Linked DNA regions of Homo sapiens: regions 2 and 3 are each linked to region 1. Evidence: fine-mapped expression QTL. A gene starts in region 1. Each other region holds a variant in brackets. All regions are shown on one strand. Distances are between the middles of the regions. Region 1 holds the start of UBN1 (ubinuclein 1). Region 2 overlaps PPL (periplakin). Region 3 overlaps UBN1 (ubinuclein 1).

Region 1 (2,753 bases):
ATTCAGAATTTTTAAACAGGAACTTATGTTAAATTTTTATCAAATTATTCCCTGGAATCTTAAATACGCTTTAAAGATCACTTTGTCTTAAAAATACACACGCAGTAAATGACAGTCCGTGCAGCTAATTCTTGGTACTTCAGGGAAACTGATCTCCCAAGAAAAATCAGGCTGCGGGACGACCCAGTACGCTAAACACCGACTTGCAACCGAAATCTCTAACCACCACAATGCCTTGGGGAAATGCGTGTCGACTCGCCACCTTTGCCAGCTGGCAGTGACTCAACAAGAGCCCGACACCAAGTCTAAGTCAATCCTTAACACTGTGGAGTCTGTGATCGGGACTGGGATCTTTTGCAAAATTGTGATTCTACCTGGTCTGCTGAAGTTTGGGCCGACGCTGCGCTCAACTGCAGTTAACACTTCCCAGTTCATGGTTCAGTTTTAAAGTGTCCAAACTACGCCCGGCATCTGTCTTCCTGTTGTCACAACTTTTTCAAAAGTGCAAAACTAGGGCAAGGCTAACGAGAGAGCCCGGACCCGACAACGACACGCACCTTTGTCCCCAGCGCCGACGCGGGCCGCAGACGTCCCCCCGCGGCGGTCCTCATGCCGGTCCCCGGGCGGCGGCGCAGCTAGCGGTCGGCTGCTAAGCCGTGGCTCCCAGCGGGCGGGCGGCCCGCGCCTCGGCCCATGGCCGGGTCCCCGAGCCCAGGGGAGCCTGGTGTGCCGCGCCGCGCGCCGGCCCAGGAGGAAGCGAAGAAATGCCAACTCGACGTCCGCGCAGCCACTCCGGGGACACCAGGGGGTCGGGGGAGCAGCCTCCGGTCGCCCCAGGAGAACTTGCGGCGCGGGACCCCGCGCTCAGACGGCGCCTCCGAAAGCGGCCGTCGGGAGGAGCGCTCCAAAGAACACGGGCGGCGGGAGCGGACGGGCGCGGACACCGGGGCCTCCCGGCCTGCGGCCAAGCAGAGTTGCCGGGCGCGGGAGCCCAGACCCGGCGGAGGCTGAGTTCCAGGCCGCGCCGAGCTCCGTCAGGGTAGCTCACTGGCGCTGCGACGGGGCCGACCAGCGCCTCGGGCTCGGGAATGGCCCCGGGGCCCGCGCCGGACCAACGGGCGTAACGGAAGCGCCGAGAGGGGAGGGGCGCGGAGTCCAAGACCCGGGGGCGGGGCGAGCCGCGAGGCCGGCTCCCTCTCGCGCTCAGCCGGTCGCACCGTCGCCGCCGCCGCCGCCTCAGACCGCGGGCGCTTCGTTGTCACGAGCCGAAGGGAGGGGGAAGGAGCCGGGAGTCTCTGCGCTCCGGCGCGCGGAGACCGCGGCGCTCGCGTCACGTGCCCCTCGGTCGACCAATGATCCCCGGCGGGCGCGGTGACGTCAGAGTAGCGGCGTGGCCAGTGACAGCCGGCCCCCGTCACGTGGTCGGGCCCACTCCAATGGGCGGCGCCGGGGCGACTTGCTGTTCCCGGCGGCCCGTGCGTCGGCGGTGGTTGGGTGGTAAGATGGCGGCTGTGAGTCTGCGGCTCGGCGACTTGGTGTGGTGAGTCCGAGCGGCCGGGCCAACCGAGACGCGCCGGGGAGCTACCCGCCTGGGCGCGGGGTTCGCTGCCGGCCCTGGAGCTGCCTTTTTATGCGCTCCAGGTCGCGGAGAGAGGGGAAGAGAAGGTGCCGGCGCTTGCGAGCGGCGCCAGGCGGAAGGGGCAGTCCAGTCCCGGGGGACCGAGGCCGAGGGTGGCCACGTCGGGCACCGGCTTTGATCCCCGAGGCCGGCCGGGTGGGGTCTGCACTCGGGGCCCAGATACTGGCGGCCCCCGTGAAGGGAGCCGCCGGTGCCGCGAGGCTTCCCCGGACGACCGGTCCCCGGGGTCTTGTTGGGGCTTCCCAGAAAGCAGAAGCGCCGGGGACCGGACCTGCGAGATCTGGCCGGTGCCATTCGGTCAAAGCCCAGGTTGCGATGCAGCCGACCTGTGCGGCCGGCTCAGCCGGGGTTGTCTAAACCGGACTGCTGGCGTTGCCCCGCGAAGAAACGGCGGGGGGACTTCTCCTTTACAACCGATGGCTTGGCAGTGACCAGTGCACGCTTGGGTGCCTCCCGCGGTCTGCTTCTGTGTCCCAGACAACCGCCCGAACCAAGACTTTGTCGCCGCCTCCCTCGAGCTGCGTAGCTTGTTTCTCCACCCAGAGGAAGGCTTCCATTAGCATTTGTCAAAGCCAGGCAGGTCTCCTGTTGAATTAAACCAGACTTAGGGAGGGAAAGTCTGTGTTTACAGAGGAAGCTGTCCTCCCACCCCCGTCATTAAGAAGCTCTAGACAAGTGACTTTTGACAGTTGTGTTGTTCTGTATTCCTTGTCAACAGAAGAATGGATATGCGTTGTGCACATAAGTATACAATTTTGCATTTTACTTCTGAGGGTGTTGGGCCCAGCTATGAAAGCTTTTGTTTCGGCATTTGAGGATGCCAGCAGAGATTTAGGAAAATAAATTGCGTATTGAGTGGGTTGAAGGAGATGGACTGGCTTTTGCAGGGCAAGTGTTGACTCTTTGTGTTTTCTCTAGGGGGAAACTCGGCCGATATCCTCCTTGGCCAGGAAAGGTGAGTGTCTTGCTACTAAAGGAAGAGATCTGAAGTTGGGTTTGAAGAGGTGGAGAATGTAAGATGCATTCCTCTCAGTTTCTAGTATTGAGTTAAATTGGGCTCATTCAGATGGCACTTAGAATTTTTTTTCCCCTAGTATCGGTTATTTTTTAAAAG
Region 2 (2,753 bases), 52 kb before region 1:
GGGGAAAGGCCTCATGGGGAGAGGAGAGGATGGGAAGCTTGGAGTCGGGGGGACAAGGATGTATTGTTTTAAAAATGACATAGGCAGCTGGGCATGGTGGCTCACGCCTAGCACTTTGGGAGGCAGAGGCAGGAGGATCACTTGAGCCCACGAGTTTGAGACCAACCTGGGCAACATAGTGAGACTCCAGCTCTACAAAACATTTAAAAATTAGCTGGGCTTGGTGGCATGCCTGTGGTCCCAGCTACTTGGGAGGCTGAAGTGGGAGGATCGCTTGAGCCCAGGAGGTGGAGGCTGCAATGAGCTGTGATCGTGCCACTCCACTCCAGCCTGGGAAACAGAGCAAAACCCTGCCTTTAAAAAAAAAAAAAAAAAAAAAAGGCGTGCAGTAAACGTTTCAATCAGGAGAGGGGTTGAGGCGGGAAGAGAGGTGCCCCAGCCTTTTCCTGAGCGGCTGCAAGGTCTGCCCTGGTTGTTCAGGGAAAACCCTAACAGGCCCCAGGGGTACAGCCTGTCCTGCTCATTTCTTTATTATCTGCTGTGTGCCAAGTATGATGCCACTTGCTTTCTATACAAAAGCTTTCCATTTTCCTTCCCAAACCTTTAAAGAATGCATTCTTTTAAAAATTGCATAAGTGTTATGCAAACGCTTCCTTGTTGCCAATGTTTCAGACAGAGAATACAGAGGCAGCATTGTGTCGCTATAAGGAGCCATGCTTCCTCTGCTCCTTAGTGTTAGTGGTGACACCTTGAGCGAGTTACTTAGCCTCCGGGAGCCTCAGTTTCCTCATCTGAGAAATGGAGCTCCTACATGTTCCTGTCTCATAGGGTCGCTTTGAGGATGAAATGAGTCAATGTTGCAGAAGTTCATCAGGCGTGGAGGGCCCCACGTACCAAAATGCAAACATCCCTCCTTTCCCTTGCACACCCGCTTCTCAGACGTACAGTGGTGCTTTCCTTCCAGCCCTCTATAAGACGATCATGATACAGATAAAAGTAGAAGCTATAGTTACTGATATTTGTTGAGCACCAACTATATGCCAGTCTCTGTACGCTGTGAGGTCAGGACTGTCATCTTCCCCATTTACAGATGGGCGAACTAAGCCTTCACAAAAATGTCAGTTCCGTAAGGGTTTTGTGTGTTTCGTTTGCTGTATCCCCAGTGTCTGGAGCCATGTCCAGCATGTAGTAGATGCTCAGTAAACATTTACTGAATGAATGAATGAATGAATGAATGAGTTTCAGGGGTTCAGGTGACTTGTCTAAGGGGGACTGGCCTGGACGTGG[C/A]TAAGCTGGGCTTGTCCTCAGGCCACCCATAGCTGGGCTTGTCCTCAGGCCAGCCATAGCTGGGCCCTGCAGGAGGTAGGGAAGGAAGCGAGCAGTGGCAGCGGGCTGAGGACGCAGCCCTTTCCTTGCCCCGGCCCCTTCAGGCAGCATCACAGGCCCGGCAGCAGCACCTGAGTTCGCTGCAGGACTACATGCAGCGCTGCACCAATGAGCTGTACTGGCTGGACCAGCAGGCCAAGGGCCGCATGCAGTACGACTGGAGTGACCGCAACCTCGACTACCCCAGCCGCCGGCGCCAGTATGAGGTGGGTTCTGGGGGCCTGGGGCATCAGGGAGGAGGCAGCCCTGGAAGGAGCACGGGACCGCCAGGCTGGGCACTGAGGCCCCTCCACTGCCCCCCACTGCAGAATTTCATCAACCGGAACCTGGAGGCCAAAGAGGAGAGAATCAACAAACTGCACAGCGAGGGCGACCAGCTGCTGGCGGCCGAGCACCCCGGGAGGAACTCCATTGAGGTTCATGCACCCCGAGACCAGACACCTCCCCCAGGGTGGCTTCTGGTTGGCCGCTGCCTGTGGGCCGCCTGGAGCTCGGGCAGACCCCGGAGCTGGGGGTCCTGCAAGCTGCATCTTGTGTCTGTCTGTCTCTTTCTTGCTGTGTCTGACTCTGCCTCCTCCATTTATCCTGATCCGTTGACACTTCTGCCCTCAGCCCCTGGACTTCTGAAGCCCCTGTGGGGTCTGTATTAGTTTCCTAGAGTTGCTGCAACAAGTTAAAACAAACTTAGTGGCTTTAAACAACAGAAATTCATTCTCTCAGAGGTCTGTGGGCTGTAAGTCTGAAATCAAGGTGTCTTAGGGCCTCATTCCCTCTGGAAGCTCCAGGACATGTGCCTTCCTTGCTCTTCCGGCTTCTGGGGGTTGCCAACAGCCCTTGGCTTGTGGCTGCATCATTCCAGTCCCTTCCTCCGTCTTCACATGGCCTTCTCTCCCCATGTCTCTCTGTATCCTCTCTTCTTATAAGGATATCAGTCAGTGGATTTAGGGCTCACCCTAATTTCAGGATCCTTAACTAATGACATCTGCAAAGATCTTATTCCCAAATAAGGTCGCATTCTTCCCAACCCCCACAATGCCACCAACCCCGCCTGAGATGGAGTTTCGCTGTTGTTGCCCAGGCTGGAGTGCGATGGTGTAATCTTGGCTCACTGCAACCTCCACCTCCCGGGTTCAAGCAATTCTCCTGCCTCAGCCTCCCAAGTAGCTGGGACTACAGGCGCACACCATCATGCCCAGCTAATTTTTGTATTTTTAGTAGAGACAGGGTCTCATCATGTGGGCCAGGCTAGTCTCAAACTCCTGACCTCAGGTGATCCACCCGCCTCGGCCTCCCAAAGTGCTGCGATTACAGGTGTGAGCCACCATGCCTGGCCAGGGTCATGGATTTGGTGGGACACTGTTCGGTCC
Region 3 (2,753 bases), 25 kb before region 1:
TAAGAACTGGGAAAAATGTTGATAAACAGCAATTTTTACTACATTGAGAGGTTTCTGCAACATCTAAGGTAATTTTCACAGTGTCTATTCTCCAGCCACTATATTGCCCTCCATTTCTGCCTGGTAGCTCAGTAAAGTCGCCTTTTCTTTCTGCTGTGGCTCCAAGCTAAACTGCACTTGGCTAGAGTGTATTTCTTCCATACAAAGATCACAGTGTAACACGTTCACACCTTCAGGGACTACTGACTCCTCAGAGGGCTGCCAAGAAGATCCCACTTAATCCCACATGAACCCCAGGAACTGGGCCAGCTGGGTACTGTTTGTAGAACCAAGGCTAGAGGGGGGTTAAGTGGCTTGGGTCTCTGTCCTGTTATGACTTCAAGAATGTCATCCTGAGCAGCTGTCCCCAGACGAGCAAAGATCAATGAGCTTCCACAGTCACTTGACTGTTTCCAGAGCATAGTTGTAGGGAGATGGGCATAGCTGACATGTGACCCGAGCAAACTGACTCACCTTCACCTTGATTTTAGAAGGGGCCATAACTTTCTTCTTGGCCCTGTTCAAAGGAATGAGCACAGAAAAGTTTAGAGAATATCCAGAGGAGACCAAAAACAACACTTGTCCCGAGATGTGAAAATACCAAGACACTCACAGGATTGAAGTCAGGTGCCCATGGCCTCGTCTGCTCTCCTTAAACAGAGTTCTGAAAGACACAGAACACCAGGCATCTGTACATGCCCCAGAAAGCTGGGACTCTGCTTCCAGAACTTTGCTAGTGTCCCTGGTCCTCAGTAGCTATCCCTCATTAAATGTCAACTGGCCAGGCGCAGTGGCTCACGCCTGTAATCCCAGCACTTTTGGAGGCCAAGGCAGGTGGATCACCTGAGGTCAGGAGTTCGAGACCAGCCTGGCCAACATGGTGAAACCCCGTCTCTACTAAAAATACTAAAATTAGCCAGGCGTGGTGGCGCACGCCTGTAATCCCAGCTACTCGGGAGGCTGAGGCAGGAGATTCGCTCAAACCGGGGAGGCGGAGGTTGCAGTGAGCCGAGATCGTGCCATTGCACTCCAGTCTGGGCAACAGAGTGAGACTTTGTCCCCGCCCCCCC[A/CA]CCATGCCCACCCACCCCCCACACACACAAAAAAAAAGGTCAATGGATTGGGGAGCCAAATTCCTGGTGAGAGGATCTCAATGGGACACACTGGCTGCCCAAAGGCTGAGTCTGGCCTTTACCAAGAAAATGTATGGCTCTGCCTCAAACCTCTCATGGTGATGCTTCCCTAAAGGGCACAGCACTTTCCTTATTGCCTAGTCCCTCCATTCCAGGAATAAAATGTGGAGTGACCCAGCATGTCTTTGTCCAGAGAAACTCAACAAAAACGTTCTTCGTATGAGTCCAGCCTACGTAGAGAGGACAGCAATTTCAAAGGTTCCAAGATCTATCCGCACAACAGATGATTCGAGTCCAATCAAGAAAATCACTCCAGCTAACTTTCTCTGTCCCATGTATGACACAAATACTTCATTCGCAGGAAGTGACTTCGTACAAGGTAGCCTCTGAGATGGAAGCCTGGCACTTAGTTCCAATAAGGAGTCAGCCCTGCTACCTGCAAATGACACTTCTTCAGGAACATCAGGAAAGACCCAAGATGAACCCATCTCTCAAATGCTCATAGCAGCCTGTATGTTAAAACAGGAAGTGTGGCCGGGTGTGGTGGCTCACGCCTGTAATCCCAGCACTTAGGGAGGCCAAGGTGGGCAGATCACAAGGTCAGGAGATTGAGACCATCCTGGCTAACACGGTGAAACCCCATTTCTACTAAAAATACAAAAAATTAGCCGGGCATGGTGGCAGGCACCTGTAGTCCCAGCTACTCGGGAGGTTGAGGCAGGAGAACGGCGTGAACCTGGGAGGTGGAGCTTGCAGTGAGCTGAGATCATACCACTGCACTCCAGCCCAGGCAACAGAGCGAGACTCCATCTCAAAAAAAAAAAAAAAAAAAAAAAAAAAAGGAAAGTGCATATTGAGATGGGAGGCCAAACATCAACTGAAGTGGGACAAAAAATGACAAAAACAAAACCCTGGAGGCAACTTCCCTTCCTCCAGGGAAGATCCAGAAGACCCTTTCCCAGCTACCTGCATGTCCCCCAGTTACTCAGGTGAGATCAGAGTTGAGGCAGCTAGACAGTGACTCCCTGTGAGCAAGGATCCTGTTGGCCTGGCACAAAAGCAGCGTTCAAACGTGTCTTGACTGCACAGATGCCCATCTCAGCACACGGCCCTCACCTGGCCTGCATCCAGCCTTTGGGCCAGAGGGGCTTGACTTCCGCATCCAGAAAGCCCTTCACACAGTCCTCCCAAGCCTGGGCTTTGTTGTTCCTCTCCAGGTCCTGGCTCTCCAGTTTGATCTTCACCACCTGGCACAGTAGCTCCCTGAGAAGGAGGCAGAAATCAGAAACTCCAAACTACTTCAGATGCTGCTCCAAGGTTCCAATCATGTGCTTTCAGCAGCCCTGATGAAAGTAAATGAGCCTAACCTTTGTCAGCAATAGGGGACGTGCTCAGACACTGCCCCACCAACCCTCCAAAGAGGCCAAGTCCCAGTGTGGGCACACCTGATCTCATCATTCCATTGGAACTTCTTCCGAGGTCCCATTATCCTCCTGCCCCCTTTTTCTTCATCTTCTTCCTCATCCGAACAAATCCGGTCCCTCTGCTCCTTGTCTTTCTCCTCTTCCAGCATCCTACGGGGTG

The links. PIP is the estimated chance that this variant, and not a neighbour inherited with it, causes the effect.
Region 2: its variant is fine-mapped to the expression of UBN1 in whole blood (TOPMed, PIP above 0.99).
Region 3: its variant is fine-mapped to the expression of UBN1 in whole blood (INTERVAL, PIP above 0.99).

Annotation. Positions count from the first base shown.
Region 1 is chr16:4,846,015-4,848,767 of GRCh38, reverse strand. It overlaps UBN1 (ubinuclein 1), which reads right to left and starts at 1,287. Exons shown (of 18, transcript NM_001079514.3): 1 at 558-1,287. It overlaps GLYR1 (glyoxylate reductase 1 homolog), which reads left to right and starts at 1,480. Exons shown (of 16, transcript NM_032569.4): 1 at 1,480-1,540; 2 at 2,558-2,594. The coding sequence starts at 1,503. RefSeq lists silencers at 607-696, 707-1,426 and enhancers at 479-1,321, 1,617-1,676, 1,977-2,036.
Region 2 is chr16:4,898,062-4,900,814 of GRCh38, reverse strand. PPL (periplakin) reads left to right here. Exons shown (of 22, transcript NM_002705.5): 7 at 1,431-1,592; 8 at 1,695-1,802. The region is part of intron 1 of LOC124903637 (a long non-coding RNA gene); the gene reads right to left. Among named protein-coding and RNA genes, the nearest start is that of PPL, 38 kb to the left of the region's middle. The variant C/A (reference allele first, on the strand shown) is at 1,288.
Region 3 is chr16:4,870,834-4,873,586 of GRCh38, reverse strand. UBN1 (ubinuclein 1) reads right to left here. Exons shown (of 18, transcript NM_001079514.3): 11 at 2,615-2,743; 12 at 2,286-2,432; 13 at 653-703; 14 at 514-556. Among named protein-coding and RNA genes, the nearest start is that of UBN1, 25 kb to the right of the region's middle. RefSeq lists a silencer at 2,604-2,753. The variant A/CA (reference allele first, on the strand shown) is at 1,110.